Linked DNA regions of Homo sapiens. The protein of the gene in region 1 binds, or shares a complex with, the protein of each later gene. Each region holds a gene or a part of one and is shown in the gene's direction. Other genes may lie near its edges.

Region 1 (7,973 bases):
AGAGTTTTGCTCTTGTTGCCCAGGTTGGAGTGCAGTGGCGCAATCTGGGCTCACTGCAACCTCCGCCTCCTGGGTTCAAGTGATTCTCCTGCCTCAGCCTTCCGAGTAGCTGGGATTACAGGCATGTACCACCAAGCCCGGCTAATTTTGTATTTTTAGTAGAGATGGGGTTTCTCCGTGTTGGTCAGGCTGGTCTCGAATTCCCAACCTCAGGTGATCCACCCGCCTTGGCCTCCCAAAGTGCTGGGATTACAGGCGTGAGCCACTCCGCCCAGCCAGCATTTTCATTTATTTTTTTTCTTTTTTTTAAATTTTCCTCTCTAGCCCAGTTCAATAACTTTTTTTTTTTTTTTTTTGACACAATGTCTCCCTCTGTTGCCTAGGATGGAGTAAGTGGTGTGATCAAGGCTCATCACTGAAGCTTCGACCTCCCAGGCTGAGGTGATCCTTCTGCCTCAGCCTCCAGAGTAGCTGGGGACTGACTACAGGCACATGCCAGGAGGCTTGGCTAATTTTTTTCTTTCTTTTTTTTTTTGAGACAGTGTTTCGCTCTGTTGCCCATGCTGGAGTGCAATAGTGTGATCTCGGCTCACTGCAACCTCTGCCTCCTGGATTCAAGCAATTCTCCTCCCTTAGCCTCCCAAGTAGCTGGGATTACAGGCATGCACCACCACATCTGGCTAATTTTGTATTTTCGGTAGAGACAGGGTTTGACACTCCAGCCTGGTCATCAAGAGTGAAACTTAGTCTTTAAAAAAAAAAAAAAAAAGGTGGATAGATAACAGTCCAGTGGTATGGTATTCCTTACATCAGACCCATAACTTGTGTGTCATCTTGCCATTAAAAATGTCTTCTTTGGATGTTTTGAAGTAAAATGATTTTGGAAAATATTTTAACTGAATTCTTACTGTGATGAAGTGTGGGAATTTATTTTGCAAGGAAAACTGTGGATGGTCTTGATAGAACAGTTACTGATAACGTTTTCTGATTTAAATCATAGAGTCAGAAAAGCTGAGTAAGATGAGTTCTCTCCTGGAACGGCTCCATGCAAAATTTAACCAAAATAGACCCTGGAGTGAAACCATTAAGCTTGTGCGTCAAGTCATGGTAAGGATTGTGGTGAAGTGGGTAAAGTGTTTTGCTTAGATAATTATTCTTAATACGCTAAGCTCCCCATGTAGATGTGTTCATACTATCTTCATAAAACATCTGAATACATGGTGGTTTCAACTTTAGGAGTCTATTGTATCTATACTACAGGTTGAATATCCCTTATATGAAATGCTTGGGACCGGAAGTGTTTTAGATTTTGGATTGTTTTGGATTTTGGAATATTTGCAAATATATAATGAGATATCTTGGGGATGGGACCCAAGTCTAAACACATAATTTATTTATGTTTCATAAACACCTTATAGATATAGCCTGAAGGTAATTTTATACAACATATTTAATAATATATTTAATACTTTTGTGTGTGAAACTAAGTTTTTTTTTGTTTTTTTTTTTTATTGAGACGGAGTTTCACTCTTGTTGCCCAGGCTGGGTTGTAATAGCCCGATCTCGGCTCACTGCAACCTCTGCCTCCCAGGTTCAAGTGATTCTTCTGCCTCAGCCTCCCGAATAGCTGGGATTACAGGCATGCGCCACCACGCCCAGCTAATTTTTATATTATTTGTAGAGACGGGGTTTCTCCATGTTGGTCAGGCTGGTCTTGACCTCCAGACCTCAGGTGATCCACCTGCCTTCGCCTCCCAAAGTGCTGGGATTACAGGCGTGAGCCACCGCGTCCAGCCGTTTTGACTGCATTTTGACTATGACCCTGTTATGTGAGGTCAGGTGTGAAATCCTTGGTGGCATCATTGGGAATGCTAAAAAGGTTTTGGATTTGGGAGCATTTCAGATTTTTGATTTTCAGATTAGGTATGCCCAGCCTGTACTAGTAGAATTTTTGATTCATTCTTTTTTTTGAGACCAGGTCTTATCATCCAGGCTCAAGTGCAGTGGCGCGATCATGGCTCACTGCAGCTTCAACTTCCCAGGCTCAGGTGGTTCTCCCACCTCAGCCTCCTAGTATCTGGAACAACAGGTGCATGTAACCATGTCCAGCTAGTTTTTTTTTTTTTTTCTTTGAGATGGAGTCTTGCTCTGTGGCCAGGCTGGAGTGCAATGGTGCGATCTCGGCTCACTGCAACCTCTGCCTCTTAGGTTCAAGAGATTCCCCTGCGTCAGCCTCCCGAGTAGCCGGGACTACAGGCACACGCCACCACGCCTGGCTAATTTTTTGTATTTTAGTAGAGATGGGGTTTCACCATGTTGGTCAGGATGGTCTCCATCTCCTGACCTCGTGATCTGCCTCCCAAAGTGCTGGGATTACAGGCGTGAGCCACTGTGCCCGGCTGCCCAGCTAGTTTTTTATATTTTTTGTAGAAATCGTTTTTTTTTTTTTTTTTTTGAGATGGAGTGTCGCTTTGTCACCCAGGCTGGAGTGCAGTGGTGCGATCTCGGCTCACTGCAAGCTTTGCCTCCCGGGTTCATGCCGTTCTCCTGCCTCAGCCTCCCGAGTAGCTGGGACTACAGGCCCCTGCCACTATTCCCGGCTAACTTTTTGTATTTTTAGTAGAGACGGGGTTTCACCGTGTTAGCCAGGATGGTCTCGATCTCCTGACCTCGTGATCCACCCGTCTCGGCCTCTCAAAGTGCTGGGATTACAGGCGTAGCCACTGCGCTTAGCCAGAAATAGGTTTTTACTCTGTGGCTCAGGCTGGTCTCAAACTTGTGGGCTCAAGTGATCCACCCACTTTGGCCTCCCAAAGTGTTAGGATTACAGTGTGAGCCACCGTGCCTGGCGGATTCATTTTTTTTTTTTTTTTTTAAAGATGGAATCTCTGTCTGTCACCTAGGCTGGAGTGCAGTGGTGGGATCTTGGCTCACTGCATCCTCCGCCTCCTGGGTTCAAGCGATTCTCCTGCCCCAGCCTCCTGAGTAGCTGGTATTACAGGCATCCGCCACCATGCCCAGTTAATTTTTGTATTTTTAGTAGAGATGGGGTTTCACCATGTTAGCCAGGCTGGTCTTGAACTCCTGACCTTGTGATCCACCTGCCTCAGCCTCCCAAAGTGCTGTGATTACGGGTGTGAGCCCCTGTGCCTGGCCCAGGTTGTCATTTTTATTCCTTAAGGCAACCAAATTCTAGCTTGAAATATGTTCTGTAAATGATACTGTCATTAGAGAGACATTGTGAGATAGAAGGATTCCAGGTGGCTAATAAGGCCCTCTCTTTGGGTACCACTCTCTTGGTTTGGTCACCATGACTTTGCTTGTCTACTTTTCAGTTTTGCAGATTCAGAAACCTAATTTTATTGGTACATCAAGATTTTATAGAGTTTTCATGGCTGGGCGTGGTGGTTCACATCTGTAATCCCAGCACTTTGGGAGGCTGAGGCGGGTCGATCACCTGAGGTCAGGAGTTCGAGACCAGGCTGACCAACAAGGTAAAACCCTGTCTCTACTAAAAAGACAAAATTAGCTGGGCATAGTGGCAGGCGCCTGTAGTCCCAGCTACTCGGGAGGCTGAGACAGCAGAACCGCTTGAACCCGGGAGGTGGAGGTTGCAGTGAGCCAAGATCATGCTACTGCACTCCAGTCTGGGCATCGGAGCGAGACTCCATCTCAAAAAAAAAAAAAGAGTTTTCAACAACTGACATACTGTATGCTTATTTATTAATTTATGACAAAACATTTAGTTTTCCAGTTTTCATAATACTGGTATTCATTGACCAGAGCACCTCTTCTCCTGTCAAGAATCAAGAGATTTCAGATTATTAATAAATTACTTTGTTTTGTAAGGGAGAATTAGAGCAGTGAGATAGATTTATTTGCAACATGGAAAAGCCTGGAAAACTATCCTTATACCAGAAAACTGTTCACGTTTTTAGGGACTGGAATGTTTTTCAGAGAGAAACTTCTTCACTGGATAGGGTTAGGAAAACTAGGCTAAGTTTTTTTTTGTTTGTTTGTTTGTTTTGTTTTGTTTGAGATGGAGTCTCACTCTGTCACCAAGGTTGGAGTGCAATGGTGTGGTCTTGGCTCACTGCAACCTCTGCATCCCCGGGTCAAGCGATTCTCCTGCCTCAGCCTCCTGAGTAGCTGGGACTACAGGCGCGTACCACCACACCTGGCTAATTTTTGTATTTTTAGTAGAGATGGGGTTTCACTATGTTGGCCAGGCTGGTCTCGAACTCCTGACCTCATGATCTGCTCGCCTTGGCCTCCCAAAGTGCTGGGATTACAGGCGTGAGCCACTGCAACCGGCCTCAAACTAGGCTAAGTTTTTGTTCTTTGGAAGTCCCTTTTCTGGACTACATGTTCTGTTTCTTTTCTTTTTCTTTTTTTTTTTGAGACAGAGTCTCTCTCTGTCGCCAGGCTGGAGTGCAGTGGTGTGATCTCGGCTCACTGCAACCTCCGCCTCCTGGGTTCAAGTGATTCTCCTGCCTCAGCCTGCTGAGTAGCTGGGACTATAGGCGTGCACCACCACGCCCAGATAATTTTTGTATTTTTAGTAGAGACGGGGTTTCACCATTTTGGCCAGGATGGTCTCAGTCTCTTGACCTCGTGATCCACCCGCCTTGACCTCCCAAAGTGCTGGGATTACAGGTGTGAGCCACCGCACCCAGCCTATATGTTCTGTTTTTTAGAGTCAATCTCATTTTCTTAAAATTTGGTTGTGTTTCTCAGATTACATGCAAATCACCTTGTTAAATTTGTACACTACCAAATCTCCTGAGCCATCTTATTTAACTGTTTATATCTTAGCATGTGGTCACTTCCACAGGCGGCAGATCTCATGTATTACATTTTGATTCTTCCTAATATTTCTCTAAAGGTTTTTTTGTTTTAGATGTGGAAATACAACGTTTTCTTTTTTGTTTTTGACTAAATAGAAACAGGATCTCTCTATCTTGCCTTGGCTGGTCTCGAACTCCTGGACTCAAGTGATTATTCAGCTTTGGCCTCTCAGTGTGCTAGAATTACAGGCATGAGCCACGTGCCTGGCTGAGGAATACCTTTTTCTACACTCATATATATGGATTTTGCATGGATGGACAGAGTAACACTTGTAGACCAGTGTTACTCTATATAGTCTACAAAATCTATAGACTATATTGAGTCTATAGACTGTCCTGCAATATTACTACTAGGATAATGTGTATGTTTACCTAAAACACTGTTGGCCTGGTTAATTTTCACCTCAAATGTTTTCCCACTTGACACAGGAGAAGAGGGTTGTGATGAGTTCTGGAGGGCATCAACATTTGGTCAGCTGTTTGGAGACATTGCAGAAGGCTCTCAAAGGTTTGTGAACACTTTTGAAATATGCTGATTTCACAAAACCCCCAGTTCAAGAAGGACCATTTTATACTTAAACTAGAAGTAAAAAATTGAGGTAGGTCAACTTTATGTATTAGATATTGCTCTTGCATTCATTTATGGAGTTGGAATGATCTTTTTGCTAAAGTTTGAAACATTTATTTTTGATCCTGTTTTGGAGGCTGATAGAGATTTAAAAGATAAATGATGAAGGGTAATATAAGATACCTGGGGAGGCTGGGTGCGGTGGCTCGCTCCTGTAATCCCAGCACTTTGGGAGGCTGAGGTGGGCGGATCACAAGGTCAGGAGTTTGAGACCAGCCTGGCCAACATGGTGAAACCCTGTCTCTACTAAAAATACAAAAATTAGCTGGACGTGGTGGCGGGCACCTATAATCCCAGCTTCTCGGGAGGCTGAGGCAGGAGAACAGTGTGACCTGGGGAGGCGGAGGTTGCAGTGAGCCAAAATCACGCCATTACACTCCAGCCTGGGCAACAGGGCAAGACTTGTCTCAAAAAAAAAAAAAAAAAAAAAAAAGATACCTGGGAAAAGTTTTTTTTCCCTTCACATTTATTTCTGATTAATCTCGATAAGAAGATGGACTTTTTTTTTTTTTTTTTTTTTTTTTGAGATGGAGTTTCACTCTTGTTGCTCTGGCTGGAGTGCAGTGGTGGAATCTCGGCTCACCACAACCTCTGCCTCCTGGGTTCAAGCGATTCTCCTGCCTCAGCCTCCCAAGTAGCTGGGATTACAGGCATGTGCCACCATGCCCGGGTAATTTTATATTTTTAGTAGAGACAGGGTTTTCCATGTTGGTCAGGCTGGTCTCGATCTCTTGACCTCAGGTGATCTGCCCACCTTGGCCTCCCAAAGTTCTGGGATCACAGGCGCGAGCCACAGCAACTCGCGAAGTTTTTTTTTTTTTTTTTTTTTTTCCGAGACGGTGTCTCACTCTGTCACCCAGGCTGGAGTGCAGTGGCACAATCTTGGCTCACTGCAACCTCCACCTCCTGGGTTCAAGCGATTCTCCTGGCTCAGCCTCCCAAGCAGCTGGGACTACAGGCGCGTCCCACCACGCCTGGCTAATGTTTTGTATTTTTAGTAGAGATGGGGTTTCACCGTGTTAGCCAGGATAGTATAGATCTCCTGACCTCGTGATCCACCCGCCTCGGCCTCCCAAATTGCTGGGATTACAGGCGTGAGCTACCATGCCTGTCCAGAAGATGGACATTTTAACTCTAAAAAGATTTTTACGGTGTTTATGGAGCAAATTTCCAGGAAAGCAAATGTAAAATATAAGTCATGAGCTTGATTATTCATGCTTATAATGACTAATTCTATTTTTGGGGAATAATGAAAGTAAAAACAGATTTTACTGTGATCCACCAGAAATGAACCTAATTCAGCTGAGGGTTTTTTTTTTTTTTTCTGGAGACAGTGTCTCACTCTGTCGTCCAGGCTGGAGTGCAGTGGCACGATCTCTGCTCACTGCAACCTCCGTTTCCCGGATTCAAGTGATTGTTCTGCCTCAGCCTCCTGAGTAACTGGGATTACAGGCGCCCATTACCATGCTCAGCTAATTTTTGGATTTTTAGTAGAGATGGGGTTTCACCATGTTGGCCAGGGTGGTCTTGGACTCCTGACCTCAGGTGATCTGCCTGCCTTGGCCTCCCAAAGTGTTGGGATTACAGGCGTGAGCCACTTTGCCCAGTCTCAGCTGAGTATTATCTTCTTTACCTTTTTTTGTTTTCTTTTTCTTTGAGACAGAGTGTCGCTGTGTCACCCAGGCTGGAGTGCAGTGGCACGATCTCTGCTCACTGCAACCACTGCGCCCCCACCGGGTTCAAGAGATTCTCTTGCCTCAGCCTCCCGAGAGGGTGGGATTATAGGCGCGCACCACCACACCTGGCTAATTTTTGTATTTTTATTAGAGACAGGGTTTCACCACGTTGGTCAGGCTGGTCTTGAACCCCTGACCTTGTGATCCGCATGCCTCGGTCTCCGAAAGTGTTAGGATTACAGGCGTCAGCCACCGCACGAGGCCTTTTTTTCTGTTTTAATTGTGGTAAAATATAGGTAACAAAATTTACCATTTTCTTTGTTTCTAAGTGTATAGTTCAGTAGCGTTAAGTACATTCATATTATTGTATAATCATCACCACTGTCCATCTGTAAAACTTCACTCATCTTCCCAAGCTTACATTCTGTAATGTCCCATTCCCGCCTTCCCCCAGTCCCTGGCAGCCACCATTCTGCTTCCTGTCTTTATGAATTTGACTACTCTGTATACCTGATATAAGTGGAATCATATATTTGTCCTTTTGTGACTGGCTTATTTCACTAAACGTAATGTCTTCAAGGTTCATCTATTTTGAAGCATTTATTAGAATTTCTTTCTTTTTTAAGGTTGAAAAATACTCCTCTTTATGTATATACATTTCATTTATCCATTCATCTGCTAGTGGACACTTGGATTGTTTTAACCTTTTGACTGTTGTGATTAATGGTGTTGTTAATGTTGAGTTTTTTTTAATGTTAGTTTTAATGTTAATCTTCCTTATTCTATCATTAGCAGATAAATGTGTCTTAAGTTAAAGGCAGT
Region 2 (7,259 bases), on another chromosome or scaffold:
TATTGCAGTTCAAATCCTACTTTTTTTTCCTGCTGACTTGTTCATTTTAATCTTTTCCTATCCTGAAGTCTTTCCTTTTTCCGAAAGACTTGTGGTCTTTCCTCGGTAATAACTTGTTTTATTTTGTGGTCTTTCAAAAAGTTTTTAGCCTATCTCAGCTGGGCGTGGCGGCTCATGCCTGGAATCCCAGCCCTTTCGGAGGCTGAGGCGGGCAGATCACCTGAGGTCAGGAGTTCAAGACCAGCCTGGCCAACATGGTGAAACCCCGTCTCTACTAAAAATACAAAAATTAGCCAGGTGTGGTGGCTCACACCTATAATCCCAGCTACTCAGGAGGCTGAGGCAAGAGAATCACTTGAACCTAAGAGGTGGAGGTTGCAGTGAGCCAAGATTGCACCATTGCACTACAGCCTGGGCGACAGAGTGAGACTCTGTCTCAAAAAAAAAAAAAAGTTTTTAGCCTATCTCTCTCATGAGATTGTCAGCTTTTTTTTTTTTTTGAGATGGAGTCTCGCTGTCACCCAGGCTGGAGTGCAGTGGCACGATCTCGGCTCACTGCAACCTCTGCCTCTTGGGTTCAAGCGCTTCTCCTGCCTCAGCCTCCCGAGTAGCTGGGATTACAGGCGCATGCCACCATGCCTGGCTAATTTCTGTGTTTTTAGTAGACACGAGGTTTTACCATGTTGGCCAGGCTGGTCTCGAACTCCTGACCTCAAGTGATCCACCCACCTTGGCCTCCCAAAGTGCTGGGATTACAGGTGTGAGCCACTGTGCCCAGCCTGATTGTCAGCTTCTTGAAGTCAGGGGCTAAGTCCTCTGCTTGTACATCTCTGAAGCCCTAAGAAAAGTGTTGGGAATGGCTTATATATGTAATAAGCATGTGGGATTGTGGCAGTCTATCCATTAATTCTTGTAGCGTATGAAAGAGGAATCTTGCTTTCCAGTTTTTACCTTTTTTTTTCTTTTTTTTTTTTGGAGATAGAGTATTGCTCTGTTGCCCAGACTGGAGTGCAGTGACACGCTCTCAACTCACTGCAACCTCTGCCTCCTGGGTTCAGGTGATTCTCGTGCCTCAGCCTCCCCAGTAGCTGGGATTACAGGCGTGCACCGCCACACCCAGATAATTTTTGTATTTTTAGTAGAGACATGTTTTCACCATGTTGATCAGGCCGGTCTGGAACTCCTGACCTCAAGTGATCCACCCGCCTCAGCCTCCCAAAGTGTTGGGATTACGGGTGGGAGCCACTGTGCCCAGCCCTGCCTTCTTTTGTTTTCTACTTAACTAAATGTGTATAGCTTTCCATTTTTATTGCAAATAGCCTATGGAAATAAATGAGAAAACTCATATTTTAGAGACTGGAAGGGGTGAGCTGGGGCTTGAAAGTTGATCTTCTGATCCAGATCCTGAGGTCTCTCTGCTGTAGTGTGCTGCTTGCTTCCCAAGTTGGCTAGACTTCTAAAAATTCTCCAACGGTTTGCCATTGGTTTCAGGATACAGTCTAAACTTCTTGAGGCATGGTAGATAAGACCTATCACAGCTTGGATCCCATCTACCTTTCCCTGCTTATGCTCAGACACTCCCCTTTGCTGCTTCCATAGGACCATTTACTAGATCTCAAAGAGGGAGGAGGCTAAGCTGAGGAAGAGTGTGCAGAAGAAGGGAGCAGCTACTTCCTTTGGCATGCCCAAATGCTGTTACTTTCATTTTACTTATGTAATATATGATAATATACAAAAGATTATACGTAAAGTCTGTGGGAGTTAGACTTTACATGTAGACCATCTGTGAGCCCACCACTCAACTTAAGAATTAAAACATGATCAACACTATTAAAGTTCCCTGTGTGCCCCTCACTGTTTTCTGTAGAGCAGGGTGGGTTTTACCACATGCTGCCTCTCCTGCTATTTCCCCCTACCTTTCTAGAAAAGGCTGTCAGTGAGAGGATTCCCCTCACCCCCAACCAAGAACTGCTGAGGTAGTGCCAGATTGCTGTCTGGCCTCATTCCGGGGGGAGTCATTTGACTCTACTCTGGGGTTTGCCAGTGAAAGTCTTGATGATGAATAGGATCTCTGTCCCTTGCAGGTCAGACCGGGAAGCTGATGTATGTGATGCACAACTCAGAGTACCCATTGAGCTGTTTCGCCCTCTTTGAGAATGGCCCTTGCCTTATTGCTGACACCAACTTTGATGTGCTTATGGTGAAGCTCAAGGGCTTTTTCCAGAGTGCTAAGGCCAGCAAGATTGAGACCCGGGGCACCAGGTACCAGTACTGTGACTTCCTGGTGAAGGTGGGCACGGTCACAATGGGGCCCAGTGCCCGGGGCATCTCTGTGGAGGTAAGACCTTGGTGAAAATAGGAGCAGGATGTTCTGAGGGGGCTGCTTAGCAAAGGGCTCTGAAGATTTTCCAGTTCTTCTCTTTTTTTTTTTTTGAGACAGAGTCTTGTTCTGTCACCCAGGCTGGAATGCAATGGCACAATCTTGGCACACTGTAGCCTCGACCTCCAGGGCTCAAGTGATCCTTCCGCCTCAGTCTCCCAAGTACCTGGGACTACACCCACCGAATTAAATTTTTTTTTTTTTTTAGTAGAAATGAGGTCTTACTATGTTGCCCAGGCTGATCTCAGACTCCTGGGCTCAATTGATCCTCCCATCTCAGCCCCCCAAAGTGCTGGGGTTACAGGTATGAGCCAACACACCTGGCCTCCAGTCCTCAATTTAAACAGATATTTATGCCTACCTGATCCCTGACTCCAAGGCATCTATGCTTCCTCTTCGTGAATCTTTTATCCTTTCTTTAATTATTCAGAGACTCTCTAACACAGCTGGCAAGTAGGAAGCGGGAAGCTGGGTTCAAAGCAAGCAGAAAGCTTCATTAGGAAGGGTGGCTTGCTGGAGAAGGGAAAAGATAGTCAAGGAAGGCAGGTGAGTTATGATATGGAGGGACAGTCACCCATGACAAGAAGTTCTGGAGCAGACCAGGACAACTCTTAGAACAATTTTCTGGCGGTGGGCCCTAAATCACATATGCCCATATACCTTTCCTTAGTATGCTTTAAGATAGGTTGGGAAGCAAAAATGTGCTTTTCCTTTTGACATGCTGTCTGCTTTCTTTCATGGTAGAAAGAGTGTTTGTGTGTGAGATCACTTCATCTGTGACACAGAGAGTGTGTGTGTGTCTGTGTATACATACACATATATAGTGACAAGGAGTGAGAGTGGCAGTGTAGCAGTGGCTGGCTTCTTTGGGACCAGGGAAAGTTCACAACCTATAATGTGCCCAGCACTGAGATAAGAAAACAAGTAAGCTTGCAGGTCTACCCTTTGAAAATTTGTGATTTATTTATTAAGAGTGAGGCTGAAACACACAAACTCTTTTTGAAGTTAGTCTGAAAATGCTATAAAAGAGGCAGTTGGCTCTGGGAATTCAGGCCAGTGTGAACACTGCTGACTTTGGTTGTGATGCTTCCTGAGGATCAACATTTATGTAGGGATTTAAAATGTAGAGACATGGGGATAGATAAGTCTAGGAAGAATCCCAGTTGGAGAAAAGGGCATTAGTGGTAGTTTCTGCTCAGCAACCTCTAGGACCAAGACTTCTAACCCTTTCGGCTTGTGATAGACCTTGGATTTGCTGAGACCCACTGAGGACCCGCTGTTTATCCTCCACATTTCTAATCTTGTAGTAGAAACACACTCCACCTGTTTCTTTACTTATTTCTCCTTAGGGTTGCCAGTAATTTTGCCCTGCCATCTCTCCAGTAAAAAATTAAGAGAGCAGAAGGAGAAAACCTAAGATGTATATTTTTTGGCCCATGACACACTATTTGGGAAATTCTTTCTTAGGGTCAGAACCCAGGTTGGTTCTACTTAGGGAGTAAAATTTGGTCTTGAAAAAAACTCATGAGCATATGTGTCCACTCTACTCTCTACTTACCACCCCCACACACATTTTCCTTCTCTTTCTCTTTGTTGTGTCTCTTAGAATTTTCTTGAGCTCTCCTTGAATCTTTACCCAGCATAGCAGGGACAACACAGTCCTGAGATCATCAAAAGGGGCCCAGATCTGCTTCTGGGTCCTCTGGGAGGGCTGCGGGTTGGCACAGCTCCAGGATGAGAAGGTCAAAGATGCCTAAAGATGCTGGGTATTGAGCCCAGTGTTTAGGTTGAATGTTTCCTGTGGACCAATACTGTGCTAGGAGGTGTGTGTCTTTAGCTCGGGGTTGGGGAAGATGGGAGCAGGAGGCAGGAGGTACAAGAGAAGCAGACCTTGTCTTAGCCTTCATTCACCCTCATTCTCTGTGCTTTTGGTTCCCAGGTGGAGTATGGCCCCTGTGTGGTAGCTAGTGACTGCTGGAGTCTGCTGCTCGAGTTCCTACAGAGTTTTCTAGGCAGCCACACACCAGGGGCTCCCGCAGTGTTTGGGAACAGACATGATGCGGTCTACGGCCCAGCAGATACCATGGTCCAGTACATGGAACTCTTCAACAAGATCCGCAAGCAGCAGCAGGTGCCGGTGGCTGGGATTCGTTAGTGATGAGCAGCTGCCAGCTGAGCTCTGTCACCAGGGGTACTCCACAGGAGGAGCAGGTGCTGACTTTCAGGTCCCTGGACCCCAGAAACCCAGGGTAGACATGGACTCTACTCTCCTTCTCTGGTTCTCAGCTGTGGCTTTTGTTCTGGGGCTGAGTCCCCTCCCCAACCCCCTGACTCTCACACATAGCCCCCCATCAGCTGTTTTACTCCGTGCCTTACTGGATTTGGCCTGTCCTCAAGAATGGTAATTATGAAGAGTGGAGAAGTTTGGACCTTGCCTCCTTTAGGGGAAAGGTAGGACAGGAATGTCCCTGCCTGGTACTGGTGGGGGAAATAGTCCGTATCCCCAACTATTAAGGATTTGTCCCAGGCCAATGGTGAACATGCTGCATTTTATGTTTGGATTGTGCTGTAATAAGAGCCTCTTCCTTCCCTCAGAGGATGTGGCTGGGCTTCTATCCTAGAGATGGAGTAGAAGGCACAACTGGTTTGATAGTTACTATTTTCTGACCTGTTTGCTGAAGTGATTTGCGAATTGACTTTCCTAGGGTGTTGCCTGAGTCCTTTGAAATCTCCTTCTGACATCTTTCCCTTCTGTTGTGAAATATGTTAAGCCACAGGCCAAACTGCTATAAGATCGAAGTTTGTTTTTTTCTCACCTAATAATAGAGAGGTAATCAGATGGTCTAGGGCAGATTTAACTCTACAAGGTTATCAGGAACTTTGTTTCCTTCTGTCTTATTCAGCCATTCCCAGTATGTTTTCTTACCCATAAGATCAAAGCAGACTCATCAGCTCCATATCTGCATTCCACTGGGGAAAGAGAGAGAGAAAAGAGCAGATTTTAAAAAAAAGATATGACTGAGCATTGCTCAGATCACTGTGGCCACACTTTGCTGAAAGAGATGCTGGGACATAGAACCTCTTATCTGGGCAGTCATGTGCTGAGTTAAAACTCAGGGATTCTGTGACTACAAGATGAAAGACAATTTGGTTGCTGAGATGCAGTTAATGGCTTCTGTTACATGGAGCTCAATGGACGTGCCCAGGAATGCTTTTGGCTGTTATTTTGCAGTTAATACCTCCTGTAACTAAAGCATTTGTTTATGAGTTGACTTGAGAGAAGGGCTGATCTCAGAGCCGCTTTGAGCTAAGTTGGATTAGTCACACTAGGAAGTTAATTCCACACCTTTCGTCTAAGTCTCAGTATTGAGGCCTCTCCAGTTCTCATGCACCCTGATCTTAGGGTTAGAATACTTGACCCTGATACCTGCACCATGCTTCATGGTTCCTGAGCTCTTTCTCCTGTTTCATTTGAGCCTCCAAACTACATATTTGGTCATATTGCCTGCCTACCCCATGCCTGCTGCAGAAATATTCATCCAGGTTAACCTTGATATACACAGAGATGGTCTTGGAGAATTGTGAATGTATGTACTGTATTGTCATCAAGGATACTGTCCCTTATTTGAAGGCATCTAAAGAGAAACTGTTTTCAGATCCAAGTGCTCAGATCTAAAGCCTCTGCAACAAGTCAGGTGGTGGTCATGTTTCCCTTCTAGTTTTGGCTGACAGGAAGCTCAGTTCAGTACCATAACTACAGAACCTGTCATCTGTATTTTTTGTTCTCACCCCGTTTTTGTTATTTTGTTTCTGGTTTTTTATATTGAGGTATGTTTTAGATATAGTTTACAAAAATAAAACGCACAGATCTTACCTTTTTGGCCTCCTGATTTACATTTGCTCTCGTCCAGGTTTATTTATTTGTATTTTTCTGTAGGCTGCAGCTTTTATGGAATGAAACAATGCATAGGCAGCATTTTGAACACAATGCATTTCCTGAAAATCTCCAGAAGTTGATCGTGGTAAATATAGACTCTCTAGACTTATGCATCATAAGGAGGGACTCTGTTCCCTAAAAGCTAAAAAGCAGTATAAAATCCCTAACTACACTTGGCTTTTATTTTGTTTTTTTATTATTATTATTACTTTTGAGATGGAGTTTTGCTCTTGTTGCCCAGGCTAGAGTGCAATGGTACAATCTTGGCTCACCACAACCTCCGCTTCCTGGGTTCAAGCGATTCTCCTGCCTCAGCCTCCCGAGTAGCTGGGATTACAGGCATGTGCAGTTAATTTTGTACTTTTAGTAGAGATGGGCTTTCTCCATGTTGGTCAGGCTGGTCTCGAACTCCTGACCTCAGGTGATCCACCTGCTTCAGCCTCCCAAAGTGCTGGGATTACAGGCGTGAGCCACCATGCCTGACCCTTATTTTATTTTATTTTTTTGCAATGGAGTTTCATTCTTGTTACCTAGGCTGGAGCGCAGCGGCGCAATCTCGGCTCACTGCGAACTCCGCTTCCCGGATTCAAGCAATTCTCATGCCTCAGCCTCCCGAATAGCTGGGATTAGAGGCGCCCACCACCACACCCGGCTAATTTTTTGTATTTTTAGTAGAGATGGGGTTTCGTCATGTTGGCCAGGCTGGTCTCAAACTCCTGACCTCACGTGATCCACCTGCCTCAGTCTCCCAAAGTACTGGGATTACAAGCGTGAGCCACTGTGCCTGGCCCACTTTGCCTTTTAGGCACAGTCTTGGCCTAAATTTCCAGCGTTTTTCAGTTTTGTTCTTTTCCTTCACATTTAAGCACACATTCGACCAGCTTTAAGTCTAGAGAACACCAGATTTAAGAACTGCCACTTGGGTACTTTTTCCTTTGTGTC
Region 3 (6,979 bases), on another chromosome or scaffold:
TTGCTTGAGCCCAAAAGTTTGAGACCAGCCTGGGCAACATAATGAGACCCCATCTCTACAAAAAATAAAAATAAATTAGCTAGGGATAGCAGCATGCACCTGTAGTCTCAGCTACCTAGGAAGATGAGGTGGTAGAAATCACTTGAGCCCAGGAAGTTGAGGCTGCAGTGAGCCATGATTGTGCCACTGCACTCCAGCTTGGATGATAGAGGAAGACCCTGTCTCAATTAAAAATATATATTGTATATAGAAGTGAAGGAAATAGAGGAATTGATGCCTTTTTAAGTTTTCGGCTTGAATAATTGGGTGTATGGGTACGGAGACTTGGAAGATGAGGAAGGAACAAGTTTGAAGAGGTGGAAATCAAGAGTTATTTTGGACATGTTTGGTCTCCAAGATGCCTCTTTTTTTTTTTTTTTTAAACAGAGTTTTGCTCTTGTTGCCCAGGCTGGAGTGCAATGGCACAATCTCAGCTCACCACAACCTCCGCCTCCCAGGTTCAAGCGATTCTCCTGCCTCAGCCTCCCGAGTAGTTCGGATTACAGGCATGTGCCACCACACCCAGCTAATTTTTTATTTTTAGTGGAGACAGGGTTTCTCCCTGTTGGTCAGGCAGATCTCAAACTCCCAACCTCAGGTGATCCGCCCACCTTGGCCTCCCAGAGTGCCAGGATTACAGGCGTGAGCCACTGCGCCCAGCCTCCCAGATGCCTTTCATTGTCTCAAGTCTTATTTCCACATCATGACTTGAGGGAAATAGCAACAAATATTGGTATAGTACTTTGAAGTTCACAACACACTTACATGCAGTATTTAATATAAGTAGTATTTAATACTTAGAATAGCCCTTTGAGGTAGCATTACTGTCTACATTTTATAATTGAAAAAACTGAAACATGGAGAAGTTGACATCCCTTTGATTAGTTAGTGGTTGATGTCCACCAGCGGTTTCTTTTAATCTTTCTTTTGCCTTCCCTATTCTGATTGTAGCTATTTGTATCAGTCAGTTGACAGATATTGAATATATGTTCTGGGCAAATGCTGGGTGTATGAGGCGGGTGAGATGGAGAGAGAGATTAGTAATGCTGGTCATTGCTTTTCAAGGAGTTTAGTTAGGAATGTAAAATTTGTGGTTTAAGGATAGTGACTATATTTCCTGTCACCTCCATCTCATTTTGTGCTCATGCCTCACAACAGCAATTAACAATATCTTAGCCATCAATATTAAGAACTACCTAATGGTTTTCAAAGTGTGTTGCTATCCAGAATGACAGTGAGAATAAGATGTCACTTGAGCTAGACCTTGAATAATCCATATTGGTGAAGAAAAATTAGGAAGAATTTTCCTAAGATGAAATAATGTGAGGGGTGTTTTTTTGAGGCGATAAGGAGATCCATTTGGATGGATCAGAAATTTTGCATAGGAGAGTAGTGGTTGATGAGGCCCCAAAGCTAAGTTGGAGTAAGATGTAATTAGCCTTGAGTGCCAGTCAAAGGAATTTGAGCTTTCTCCTGAGGGCAAAAAGAAACCATTAAGATTTGTGAACTGAGGAGTACTGATTTCCAAAAATATCTGGAACATGTGGGTGCCATGGATTGAAATAGAGAAGCCCTGAGTGATGTTGGCAAGATTTGGAATTTCAAAACAATTTTTTTTTTTTTTATCTTGTTGGGCAGGGTGGTTCACGCCTGTAATCCTAGCACTTTGGGAGGCTGAGGCAGGCAGATAGCTTGAGTCCAGGAGTTCAAGACCAGCCTGGGCAACATAGGGAGACCCCTGTCTCTACAAAAAATACAAAAATTAGCCTAGCATGGCAGTGTATGCATGTAGTCCCAGCTACCTGGGAGGCTGAGGCAGGAAAGTAGTTTGAGCCCAGGATGCAGAGATTGCAGTGAGCTAAGATTGTGCCATTACACTCCAGCCTGGGTGACAGAGCGAGACTGTCTCAAAAAATAAATAAATATAAAAAGTAATCTTTGTAGAATAGTCAAAACTGGAATTTGAACTCTCAAGTTACAGTTTAGAAAAAGCACAGACTGCCTTCTCACCTGAGCCTTAAGGATAACCATCTGGACAGAGGAGAGTTGGCAGAGCAGGGGAAATTCAGAAGATTGTAATGGCAAGAGGCAGTGCCCAGAGTTATGAGGAGAGATACTGTGACATTGGGTCTCCTGCCATTACCCTCGCTCAGTCTTCTGAGTTGTTTGGTAGTAAAGGGAAGGAAAAGGATGAATAAGGCCTAGAGGTATAGAGGGAAAGTGCCTTGTTTATTTAATAAATATTTATTAAGCACCTAATGTGTGTACTGTGCTGGGCACTAGCGATACATGAATGAACAAGACATTGTCTGTGCCTCCAAGGAGCTTACAGTTCAGTACCTCAGTTTTCCCAAGTGAATGATTATAAACAAGCCATTTTTGTCATTTGTACCCTCTGTGTCTATCATAATTACAAATGAAGTTGTAGTTAGCTATTTCTACCCTTGCTAGTAGGTCCTTATTAAGTTACTAATAAATGTATATTTTTTAAAAAAGAATCAGCCATGCAATATTTATATGGATAGTGCCTTGCATACATATAATACTTTTTTTTTTTTTTTTTTGAGATGGAATCTGACTCTCCCACCCAGGCTGGAGTGCAGTGGTGCAAACTCAGCTCACTGCAACTTCCACCTCCCGGGTTCAAGCAGTTCTTCTGCCTCAGCCTCCCAAGTAGCTGTGACTACAGGCGCATGCCACCACACCCAGCTAATTTTTGTATTTTTAGTAGAGATGGGGTTTCACCATATTGGCCAGGCTGGTCTCAAACTCCTGACCTCAGGTGATCTGCCTGCCTTGGCCTCCCAAAGTGCTGGGATTACAGGCATGAACCACTGTGCCAAGCCTGATACTTTATGCTTTTCAGCATATTTTCATTTGAACCTTGGGAGAAAATTATGTGTATGTAAGATAGCTATTATTCCATTCCACAGATAAGAGGAAACTGAGGCATGGAAGACAGCCAGAATAATTCTAGTTGCCTGACTTGTTTTTTTGTTTTTGTTGTTTTGTTTTGTTTTGTTTTTTTTGAGACAGGGTCTCACTCTCTCACCCAAACTGGAGTGCAGTGGCCTGATCTCAGCTCACTGCAACCTCCGCCTCGCAGGGATTACAGGTGTGTGCCACTACTGTCCAGCTAATTTTTGTATTTTTAGTAGAGACAGGGTTTCACCATGTTGGCCAGGCTGGTCTTGAACTCCTGACCTCAAATGAGCTGCCCGCCTTGGCCTCCTGAAGTGCTGGGATTACAGGCGTGAGCCACCGCGCCTGGCCATTAGTTGACTGACTTCTAATCAAACATTTCTTCCTGGATGCGTGCTGTGGCTCACACCTGTAATCCCGGCACTTTGGAAAACCGAGGCGGCGGGGGGTGGCGGATCACTTGAGGTCAGAAGTTCAAGACCAGCCTACTCAACATGGTGAACCCCCTTCTCTACTAGAAAAAAATTAGCCAGGCATGGTGGTGTGTGCCTGTGATCCCAGCTACTTGGGAGGCTGAGGTGGGAGAATCACTTGAACCTAGGAGGCGGAGGTTGCAGTGAGCCAAGATCGTACCCCACTGCACTCCAGCCTAGGCGACAGAGCAAAACTCCCGTCTCAAAAACAAAAAACATTTATTCCTTTTAGGCAAGGCATCATACTCAGTATCACGAGGAAGAATAAAGATGTTGGTAACAAGTTAGGCAGTGGTAGCTAGAAAAAAATCTCCCAGTTCTTTTCTTATGTAAAGGTGATTAGTGTTTCTTGCTAGTAAAAAAAAAAAAAAGTCCTTGACAAGACCCTTAAGTCACTGGGTCATATTTGGCCCCCTGAGCATGGTTGTAGCTGAGCTGCAAGGTCGTATTTTCCTAGCTGTGTCAGAGAATATAATTTTTCACTAATACATTTTATGAGAAACACTCAGAACAGCATTTACCACGAAGCAAGCATCATATAAATCAACTCCAGTTAATCTTAAGAGAGTGGAGTGTCTCCTTCATTGGGCTAGAGCAGTTCCTGTCTCTGCCCTATTGGATTTTTGCCTGTTTTTCCCCTTCCCATTGGAACCTACCATTGTGTTGTATTATACTTTTCATGTTATTTACTTTTGCTGTTTTTTTTTTTTTTTTTGAGACAGAGTCTCGCTGTTGTCCAGGCTGGAGTGCAGTGGCGCAATCTCAGCTCACTGCAACCTCCACCTCCCGGGTTCAAGTGATTGTCCTGCCCCAGCCTCCTGAGTAGTTGGGACTACAGGCACGTGCTACCACGCCTGGCTAATTTTTTGTATTTTTACTAGAGACGGAGTTTCACCGTGTTGTTAGCCAGGATGGTCTCGATCTCCTGACCTGGTGATCCACCCGCCTCAGCCTCCCAAAGTTCTGGGATTACAGGCATGAGCCACTGCATCCGGCCTGCTCTGTTTCTTTAAAAATAAATTTTAAATTTTAAAATCTGCACTTAAAAAATGTCTTATTTAGGTTAATATATAGTCCTTCACTCCCTGGGTCTACTTTGAAGACTGATCTTTTTTATTTTTATTCTGCGTTGTCTAGGTAGCACAGAGCTGACAGGCAGCACGAATCTGATCACACACTACAACTTGGAACAAGCCTATAATAAATTCTGTGGGAAGAAGGTGAAGGAGAAGCTAAGTAACTTCCTGCCTGACCTGCCAGGGATGATTGATCTGCCTGGTTCCCATGATAACAGCAGCCTCCGCTCTCTCATTGAGAAGCCCCCTATTCTCAGTAGCTCTTTCAATCCTATCACAGGGACCATGCTGGCCGGCTTCCGCCTCCACACTGGCCCGGTGAGTCCTGTTGGAGGAAGAAGGCAAATGGGGAGGCCTAAACATGGAGATGGTTTTTCTCTCCAAGTCTGTTCCTTCATAATGGAGCAGAATGGATGATAAGAGCAGGAGAGATTTCCTCCCTCTACTCACCTGGACCTTCCTTTGGTTCCTTCAGTTGCCGGAGCAGTGTCGTCTGATGCATATTCAGCCTCCCAAGAAGAAGAATAAGCACAAGCACAAACAGAGCCGTACCCAGGATCCTGTCCCCCCAGGTAAGAAGCAGTTCTATTCAAAGCAAAAAAAAAAAAAAAAAAAAAAAAACCTGACCTTCTGAATCTGGTTTGAACTTCCATAGGTAAACCCAGTTAAGTTCCGTATGGAGCTCTGGACTCCTAAATTCCCCTGAAGAAGAAACCAATGTACTGTGGTCTCTTGGGACTTGGGACAGGGACTCTAGCAGCACCTCTGTATCCTTTCTGGCCATTTGGACAAAAGCAGTTGCCCCGACTTGGGATTTTCCTGTAGTCTTCAGTGGTTCATAACAGTAGAGGATTTTGAGCTTTACAGGTGATAGGTACCTAATGTCTCCTACAGAAACACCATCTGATTCAGATCACAAGAAGAAGAAAAAGAAAAAAGAAGAGGATCCTGAACGGAAAAGGAAGAAGAAAGAGAAGAAGAAAAAGAAGGTAGAGTAGAGGCCTATTGCCACAACCCAGTGAGTTTCCCCAGATCTCACCCCTGTCCTAAATACCCTAGAGTTCTTTGCCTCAAGTTGGACCCAAGATTGAAAACCCAAGGCAGGTTGCAGGTTTCTCCTGTACAGCCTGATCAAAGCCAAGGCTAGTTCCTAGTTGTTCTTACCCTGCTTCTTTCTCCCCCAGAATCGACATAGTCCAGACCACCCAGGTATGGGCAGCTCCCAGGCCAGCAGCAGCAGCAGCCTACGCTAATAGGACCACTGGACTCTTTGCCAGGATGGCTTTTCCTGCTGTACTGAACCTGCTGATAAAAGCTGCCTTCCAGGCTCTTGGACACTGCCTTGGGAGCATCCTGCAGCTGGGACAGAGGCCAGCTCCTGTTGGGCTCAGTTGAGACTAAGTAAATTAGGAGAGAGAGGGACATGCTTTTGTAGGCTCATCCCAGTTGGTTTTCTCATGGACATCTCTTCCTCTCCCAGGAAGCTTACAATTTTCTTCTCTCTCTTTTGTGCAATTTGTCTGATTTAGGACTTGTTCTGTGTTTTCTTTAAAAAAAAAAAAATTACATTTATCAAACTGGCTGAAGTGTGACTGCCTGTTAAGAGGTATGTGCCTTTCTGTGAATCAGGATTTAAGACAAGGCATTCCTAAGACTTGAGGGGATTTGGGTCTTGTCATTACATGATCTCACTAGCAGGCAGGGAACCAACCAAAATGAAAAGTGACCCAAGCTTACTAATACTCCACAGCAGACACGTAACACTCTGCCCATTATGTTGAGAACCAAGCGCCTCGGTGATCTCAGGCTCCATCTGAAGAGCTGATCCAGGTAGGGCTCAACAGTGTATTCTAGGTCAATTTTGTGTCGAAAGAGAATAGCCAACTGAAAACACATGGACAGTCACCCATGTGTTTCAACAAGATTGGTTCTTTAGGTCAGAAGCCTGTGATCTTTTGAGATGAACTTCTGGCAAGCAAAGGTAAAGCTTCCCTTCTCTTTACAAGAACTTTTGACCTGCTTCGGTCCTTAGTTAAGACAATAAAGTTATTTAGCTGATGTGAAAACATTTCTAAAACAGCAACAAAATGTAGCCTAAACCATCAAAATGTGAAAAACAAAAACAAAAAACACTTTTAGTTTTTCCAGCTGGTTAGGTAACTGAAAACATCCATGAGAAAACCTGAATTAATGTAATCTGACTTTAAATTTAACACAGTTAAAATCTGTTGCCGTGAAAGCCAAGGTTGTTCCTGAATCAGTGGGTGGAAAACCACTCATTCAGCTGGTTTAAATCCAGGATTTCAGAATAAGAGTTTGCTGGGTTTTTTTTTTTTTTTTTTTTTTTTTGAGACAGAGTCTTGCTCTGTTGCCCAGGAGTGCAGTGGCATGATCTCGGCTCACGGCAACCTCTGCCTCCTGGGTTCAAGTGATTCTTGTACCTCAGCCTCCCAAGTAGCTGGGACTACA
Region 4 (7,973 bases), on another chromosome or scaffold:
CCATTTCATACAGAAAGAAGAAAAGCTTTCTAATTCTCTTTATGAAGCCATGATAACACAGAAAAATCTAGCAAAGGGAACACTAAAAACAGTCTCACTTTTGAATATTAATGCAAACATTGTAAATGAATTATTACCAAATGCAGTCTAACATTACATTGAAAGTATAAAACATGACATTGGATTTTATTATAGAAATATAGTCAATATTAAGAAATCAAGCAGTAAAGGTATTAAAAAACTAATACAATTCAACATTTATCCTTGACTAAAGCTCTTACTAAAACAGAAATAGGATGCTTCCTTAACATGAAAAACATAAAGCATCAGCAGTGGTGAAACATTGAGATAATTAGGGTGCCTATTTAAGATTTTACCAATATGCTAGTCAATACAGTTGATACAAAGGAGATATAGAAAGAATGACAAAACAGGGACAAAATTATCAATACGTGGAAATAAAATTAATGAGAAAACTCAGTTAATTGAGAAGTTATTAGAAATAATAAAGGTTTAGGAAGGTGACCAGTTATAAAATGCAAAAATAAAAGCTTTTTAAAAATGGATAGAGAAGTATAATTTACATTAGCAACAGAAAATATACAGAGGGAAAAATATAAAGAAATATACAGAACCTGTAGGAAGAAAACTTTAAAAGTCCATAGTGGCACATACAGATTTTAATAGAGTTTGAATTCTTGGTAAGATGTCATTTCTCCCCATATTGATCTTTAAATGTAATGTAATCACAAAATTTGAATGGATATTCTTTTTTAGGACTCGACATAATGCTTCTAAAGTTTAGGTCTTAGAATAATTGTGATAGAATAGTCAGAAATTTTCAGAAGAATAGAAGGGAGTATTTTTCATATCACCTATTAATTACTTAATTTTCTATGTTTTAAAGTAGCACAGCATATGAAGAAGAAAAAAATAGGAAATTATAAAGAAGATCCAAGTATAATGATAGAATTATAAATCAGGAAATACCTTAGCACATTTGGATAAGCATTTGACAACATATTTAGCTGGATCCCTGCTTTATACTCTGTACCAAAATAAATTCCAGATGGATCATAAATTGAAGGAAAAAAGCTCTTAAGGGTATTAGAAAATATGGGTGAATTGTTTTTTATCGTTTTGAATCAGGAAAGGCCTTGCTATGCCTGACAAACATGAAAGTAAAAGGTAGATTTAAGTAAGTGATTCAGATTTCTGTATTACAAATAAATACTGAGAGATATTTAAACTTGGGAGAAATTTTGCACTTATTTGACAAACAAATGATTTATTATTTATACTATACAAATTTTAGATCAGAAGAATCTCTTAATCATTAAAAAAATCGGTAATCCCATTAGAAAAATGGTCATATTAGAATTAACATTGTACAAAAGAAGAACTGTATTTGACCAATAAAGACATGGAAAGATGTTTAACCTCAAAAGTAAACTACAGGGAAAAGAAACAGTGACATACTACTTTGCCTTTAAGTTACAAAGTATTTAAAAGTGGCAGTAACCCATAGGAATTTTTTTTTTTTTTTTTTTTTTGACAGAGTCTCACTCTGTACCCCAGGCTGGAGTGCAGTGGTATGATCTCAACTCAGTGCAACTTCCACCTCCCGGGTTCAAGCAGTTCTCCTGTCTCCGCCTCCCAGGTAGCTGGGACTACAGGCGCACGCCACCACGTCCAGCTAATTTTTGTAATTTTAGTAGAGATGGAGTTTCACCATATTGGTCAGGCTGGTCTCAAACTCCTGACCTCAGGTGATCCACCCACCTCGGCCTCCCAGAGTGCTAAAATTACAGGCATGAGCCACCGCGCCCGGCCAGGATTAAATATTATAAGATTCACTCATGAACTGTTAATACAAATGGAAATTGGTATAATGTTTTTGGAGGGTAAACTGACAATGTGTATCAATAAGTTACCAGCAACACTAACCCATTAATCCTACTTCTGGGAAGTTATTTCAAATATATTATTAATCAAATATGCAAGGAGAATTACAAAGATATTCATTAAGAAGAATATCATTCAGGAAAATAGTAGGAAGAGAGTTTTTTTTTATACCAGCTATTAATTACTTAATTTTCTGTGTCTAAAATAGCACAGCATGTGAACAAGAAAAAAATAGGAAATTATAAAGAAGATCCAAGTATAATGATAGAATTATAAATTAGGAAATACCTCCATGCATTTGGATAAGCATTTGACAAAATTTTAGCTGGATCCCTACTTTGTACCAAAATAAATTCCAGATGGATCATAAATTGAAGGAAAAAAGCCCTTAAGGGTATCAGAAAATATGGGTGAAAAATGACGACCTGTATTTCCATCAGTAGAGATTGGCTAAATAATGATCCATCCATAAAGCTGTATAAAAGAATGCTGAATAACAAGTTCATTGACATAAGACTTCAAATACATATTGAATGACAAACACAGGTTCAAGATAGTTTTTTCTTTGAGTCATGTCAATTTCATATCTGGTTAAAAATAGCACACTTGACTAGGCAAGAGGAGGAGGCTATCAGTGTAACACATTCTGAGGCAGTTTTTAATATAATTAGATTTGTGAAGTAAGGAAATTAAATGCCATAGTTACCCATGAACAGCTGGAAAACTATATACTTCCTCAAATCTAAGCCACCATCAATTGGTGCCAAATAATTCCACCATTATCTTATATCACTAAGAAAGAATAAACATGCTGCCAATTAAAACACGAAGGCATCACAGATTGTAAGACATATCTTGATATCAGAGCCAGAATCAATGAAATACAAGCTAGTAACAGACTAAGGAGGAAGAAGGAAAAGATTAGAGCAGAATTTTTTCAGGACGTATTTACATTTATTAGTGAGATAATTCTTATTAGTCACGTTTCAAGAAATGTGAGAAATAATTGTCTTTAAGGTTACTTTTTGCACTTTGTACTTCTCAGAATATGAACAATGTGTTCAATCTTAGAGTGTTTCCTCTGACCTTGCTTGTTGATTTTCTGTAACATGTCTTTTCTAGTTTGCAATGGATTTTGGATAAACAAGATCTGTTGAAGGAGCGCCAAAAGGATTTAAAGTTTCTCTCAGAGGAAGAATATTGGAAGTTACAAATATTTTTTACAAATGGTAAACTTTTTTAAAAATTGGTTCAAATTGTATAGTTGGTTACCTCTGAATAAAAATGTTTTTGTGTGGTAATTTGTGAACTGTTTTAGTGCATACCTAACATTTTTGCTTATACAGGTATTCTTTTTACAACATATTCATTTATCTTTCTTTTTAGTGATCCAAATAAAGTTTTTTTGTGTGAATTTTACATATCACAGGCACTCAAGACAATTTGAAAGTGTTACCTAATCTCCCTAAGACTTTATAATAATTATTAGACCCAGTTCAAGGTTGGCTAAAGCAAAGTACTTTGAGGATAAATGATTCTTTGGATTGACATCCTATAGTGGTCGTTTCTCTTAGAACTTTGCTTTGAAGGGAAGAAGATGTAGGGATAGATCTTTACTCTGACATGTAGTAGGTTTGTCACATAATTTTTTTAACTTTCGGTTCACTATTTTGTAAACTTATCTTTTTTTTGAGGATTCGTTATGGATTTTTATGTATTATTTATTTATTTTGGTGAGCTGTATAAAGCTAAGTGTGGTGGCTCACACCTGTAATCTTAGCACTTTGGGAGGCAGAGGTGGGCAGATCACTTGAGGCCAGGAATTTGAGATGAGCCTGGCCAACATGGTGAAATTCCCTCTCTACTAAAAATACAAAAATTAGCTGGGCGTGGTGAGGCACAAGAATCACTTGAACCTGGGAGGTGGAGATTACAGTGAGCCAAGATCGTGCTACTGCATTCCAGCCTGGGCGACAGAACGAGACTCTGTCTCAAAACAACAAAAAAAGTGGTAGTATTAACAAGTTTCATAGGTGTCTAATATTTTCTTTTTATATTTATTATAAAGATACTATGAAAAGCATTAAAAATATTTAGAAGATAGAGGGGAAATATTTATTCAACTTCCTTAATGGATGAATAATTTTTTCCTGTGGGGCAATTTCTGTTTTGTTGTTGTTTTGTTGTTGTTTATGCATACCTATATATTTCTTAACACATTTGCAAATCCTAGAATTAGACCACTGTGACTCACATAGAGCATGTGTAGGTTTTTTCCTTTGTTAAAAATGAACATAATTATGATTTAACCACATGGAAGTTACTGTTCAATGTTAATATTATAATGATACCAGAAGATACATTTAAAATTTCATTATTTGCCTTTTAGTTATCCAAGCATTAGGTGAACATCTTAAATTAAGACAACAAGTTATTGCCACTGCTACGGTATATTTCAAGAGATTCTATGCCAGGTAGGATTGTTTTTATTTTATTTATTTGAACTCTTATCTAATGTTGATGAACCTTAGCACAGTGTAAATGAATCATGTGTCTACCATAGAGTTATCTTGATTTTTTTCCCAGTGTGTTTTCTGTATGAATGATATTTAACTTTGTTTTATCATATTTTAGGTATTCTCTGAAAAGTATAGATCCTGTATTAATGGCTCCTACATGTGTGTTTTTGGCATCCAAAGTAGAGGTATAAAACAATTTTCTGTTCTTCATCAAAGTGTAGTCAATGTATGTTGGTTAATCTGCCCCAGTTTTCACATGGCCTATGTAAAATTAATAAATGGTAATTTATGCAAAATACTAAAATTGTACAAAATCAAAGAAATATATACATATCCTTATATATTCACTTAACAGACACATACAGCACTTACTGTGTACCAACTGACTTAATCTTTGTAACAAACTGGAATACATAGTAGTAGTATTCCCATTTTATAAATGAGGAAACTGAGACAGAGATGAAGAACTTGCTTAAGATGATATAGCTAGTAAGTGTGAGAGCCCGTGTTTGAACCATGGGAGTCTCGTTACCAATCCTGTGTTCTTAACTACTTTCCTCTGCTGCCTTTGAGACATCTATTGTTTGGCACTGAGTAGTATTCAGTAAGTACCACAGCTTGCCTACCATAACCTGAGAATGTCCCTTATGCTTCTCACCCATATGCTTATCTTCTCCTGTCTTCCCTCCCATCATCCTGATGATTGGCTGCCTACCAAGCCAGAAGGAAGGCAAGGATTAGGGGAAGCTATAGCTATATAGAGTCTAACAAGTAAAAGTTGAGGTTGTGAGCGTAGAGAAATTAGGTAAGGGAGAGAAGATAGATAGGAACTTGCGGCAGAGACTGAATTTCTGTTCAACTGTTTTACCTTTGTAGTATTTTTGAAAGAGCTCAGCTAAAGTCCAGAAAATAATAGCAGATATTGGCTGTTTTTCATAAATAATGTAGTCTTTGGTGGTGTGAAATCTTTGCATTATGTTTCTATTTTTGGATAATGTCTTAGAGTTCTATTCTTAGAGTTGTATTCTTGAATATTGAATGTGATTTTTACCTAGTAAGTTTACATTCCTTTTGGCACCCACTTTGATTTAGTTTTGTTTTAGCCATGATTTAAGGTTATCCATGACATCTTTCCCAACTGTTACCTAAATAATGACAATTGACTCTGTTAGAAATAATATTAAGACAAGCTTTCTAGAAGTTTATGTTTTCTAATTGTGAGTGGTAGTTTAAGAAGGCAGAATCAGTTAAGGTCCTTATTATGGATTGAGTTTTCTAATTCTAATAATTCTATGTAATATTTGATTTTATTTAAATATTACCATGTAATAATTTAAAGTCTCTTAAGCACAGGCAGTATGGAGGACCAAGACAAAAAATCTTTATAAACATTTAATCTTGTAGATTAATTTGAGGATTTTAATCTATCTTACTTGTTAAATATTGTTATGTGATTTACTGAGTAGAACTCTGTGATGTGATTTACTGAATGAAAGTTTTCCCTTTGAGTTTTGGATAAAGAATTATTCCTAGGCCGGGTGTAGTGGCTCACACCTGTAATCCCAGCACTTTGGGAGGCTCAGGCGGGTGGATCACCTGAGGTCAGGAGTTTGAGACCAGCCTAACCAACATGGCAAAACCCCGTCTCTACTAAAAATACAAAAATTAGCCGGATGTGGTGGCAGATGCCTGTAATCCCAGCTACTAGGGAGGCCGAAGCATGAGAATTGCTTGAACCCATGAGGTGGAGGTTGCAGTGAGCCAAGACTATGCCACTGTACTCCAGCCTGGGTGACAGAGCAAGATTGCATCTCAAAAAAAAAAAAAAAAAGAATTATTCCTGAGAAAGAGAATGTAGTCTTTCAGATTTGGTCGTAGCATTATTATTATTTTTTTTTTATCTCTGTGACCAAATCTTTCTGTATTTTCTCTAGTTTTATGGAAATTGTATGGAAAGCTCATTTAAGAACATGTCTCAGGCTTTTACTTTTTCTTTTCAGTTATTATAGTTGGAGGTTTAAATGTAAAACAAATATATTAGTACACATACATTTCCCCTACACAGGATAAGGATGTAGGCTGAAGGTATTTAAATAGATTTTTAGTTTAGCTCCTTTTGTTGGATAAGAAACCAACTCTTGATTTTTTTATTTTAAAATGAAGTGAAGGCTTTAGAAATCTTACGAGGCAATAAATGAAACAGTATATATAAGGTGGATCATAATAAATTTTAGTATTTTCACAATGGTGGTTGTTCAGTTGAAAGAGGAAATGGGAACTGACTTTGGAAGTCTTACGTAATTCCTGTCTCCCTGTTCTAAAAAGGATAGTAACTATTTATATGGTTTTTTTTTTTTTTTAGTTCTTTTGGTGATTAATTAAGGTTTATCTTATTCACAAATTCAACTGTTTTACCATAGAATGGCATGAAGTATCTGTTAATACAGGTTGAATTGAATAGGAAACATACTTAATATTCTTGCAATTAAGTATAGAATGTAAACAATCTTCTTGGAAACTAATTTAAATGGAAAAACTGACACTGTAACCTTAAGGCTTGGTTTCTAATTTGGTACCTTTTATTGTTATTAAATTATAAAATTATTTTAAAATATGTCTTAAGTTGTAGCAATTTGGGGGAGAGGTAATACAGGCAGAATATCCGTAATCTGAAAATCCTAAATGCTCCAAAATTTGAAACGTTTTGAGGGCCAACATGACATTCAAAGGAATGCTCATTGGAACATTTTGCATTTCAGATTTTTAGATTAGGGATGCTCAACCAGTGTAATGCAAAATATTCCTAAATCAGAAAAATCTCTGATCCTAAGCATGTCAGATAAGGGGTAATCAGCCTGTACATTTAGGAGTGTAAGTACTTCACACCTCAAGTAGTTAGAAGGTGAACAGATTGTAAACAGGAGCAAGGAAATCCTGTTTTGAATAGAGTTCAGATACCCTTAGATTCATTGGGTTAACATGTACCTGCTTTTCTTTCTTTAGGAATTTGGAGTAGTTTCAAATACAAGATTGATTGCTGCTGCTACTTCTGTATGTAAGTGCAAAAAGTATATCTGCTTTAAGGATGTAATTCTAAAGAAAGCTCCAGAGTACATAGATTTTTTTTTTTTTAGTTTATGAGACATATGAGATTGGTTGGCTTTATTAAATTTCCTGAGGATAACTTTATATCTAGTGTATCTGGCAAAAAAATCAAGCTAAAAGGTTTTTTTTTAAAAAGATATAAAGATATTACTTTTAATGTTAAAATGGATAGTAATTATCAATCCAAAAACATCAACTCAGTGGCTTTTAATCTTGTAAGAGTAAAGAAAAAATTCTGTTTCCGAATTTTATTGTATTTTATTGTTTTCTAATGACTATTATGTCATTCTTATGGGTAGATATTAATATCTATGTGCAAACCCGTTCCTGTGTTGTTGGGTTGTTATGAGGACCAAATGAGTTAATATAAGCTTTTAGAACAGTGCCTTGCTTAGTATGTTACTTTGCTGAGGCTGCCATAACAAAATGCCACAGAACAGGTGG

What was found.
Region 2: MED1 (region 1) and MED20 share a complex: the UniProt entries of both Homo sapiens proteins name them as parts of the mediator complex.
Region 3: MED1 (region 1) and MED19 share a complex: the UniProt entries of both Homo sapiens proteins name them as parts of the mediator complex.
Region 4: MED1 (region 1) and CCNC share a complex: the UniProt entries of both Homo sapiens proteins name them as parts of the mediator complex.

The regions. Positions count from the first base shown.
Region 1 is NC_000017.11:39,440,932-39,448,904, reverse strand, and holds part of MED1 (mediator of RNA polymerase II transcription subunit 1), read left to right. Parts: intron 1-1,000; coding exon 1,001-1,107; intron 1,108-5,276; coding exon 5,277-5,355; intron 5,356-7,973. UniProt on the Homo sapiens protein: Component of the Mediator complex, a coactivator involved in the regulated transcription of nearly all RNA polymerase II-dependent genes.
Region 2 is NC_000006.12:41,904,348-41,911,606, reverse strand, and holds the end of MED20 (mediator of RNA polymerase II transcription subunit 20), read left to right. Parts: intron 1-2,084; coding exon 2,085-2,338; intron 2,339-2,741; coding exon of another isoform or gene 2,742-2,763; exon of another isoform or gene 2,764-2,848; intron 2,849-4,319; coding exon 4,320-4,535; 3' UTR 4,536-6,253; downstream 6,254-7,259. UniProt on the Homo sapiens protein: Component of the Mediator complex, a coactivator involved in the regulated transcription of nearly all RNA polymerase II-dependent genes.
Region 3 is NC_000011.10:57,702,822-57,709,800, reverse strand, and holds the end of MED19 (mediator of RNA polymerase II transcription subunit 19), read left to right. Parts: intron 1-4,571; coding exon 4,572-4,828; intron 4,829-4,985; coding exon 4,986-5,082; intron 5,083-5,165; coding exon of another isoform or gene 5,166-5,179; exon of another isoform or gene 5,180-5,404; coding exon 5,405-5,499; exon of another isoform or gene 5,500-5,694; coding exon 5,695-5,763; 3' UTR 5,764-6,091; downstream 6,092-6,979. UniProt on the Homo sapiens protein: Component of the Mediator complex, a coactivator involved in the regulated transcription of nearly all RNA polymerase II-dependent genes.
Region 4 is NC_000006.12:99,558,003-99,565,975, reverse strand, and holds part of CCNC (cyclin-C), read left to right. Parts: intron 1-3,027; coding exon 3,028-3,134; intron 3,135-4,294; coding exon 4,295-4,379; intron 4,380-4,539; coding exon 4,540-4,609; intron 4,610-7,427; coding exon 7,428-7,479; intron 7,480-7,973. UniProt on the Homo sapiens protein: Component of the Mediator complex, a coactivator involved in regulated gene transcription of nearly all RNA polymerase II-dependent genes.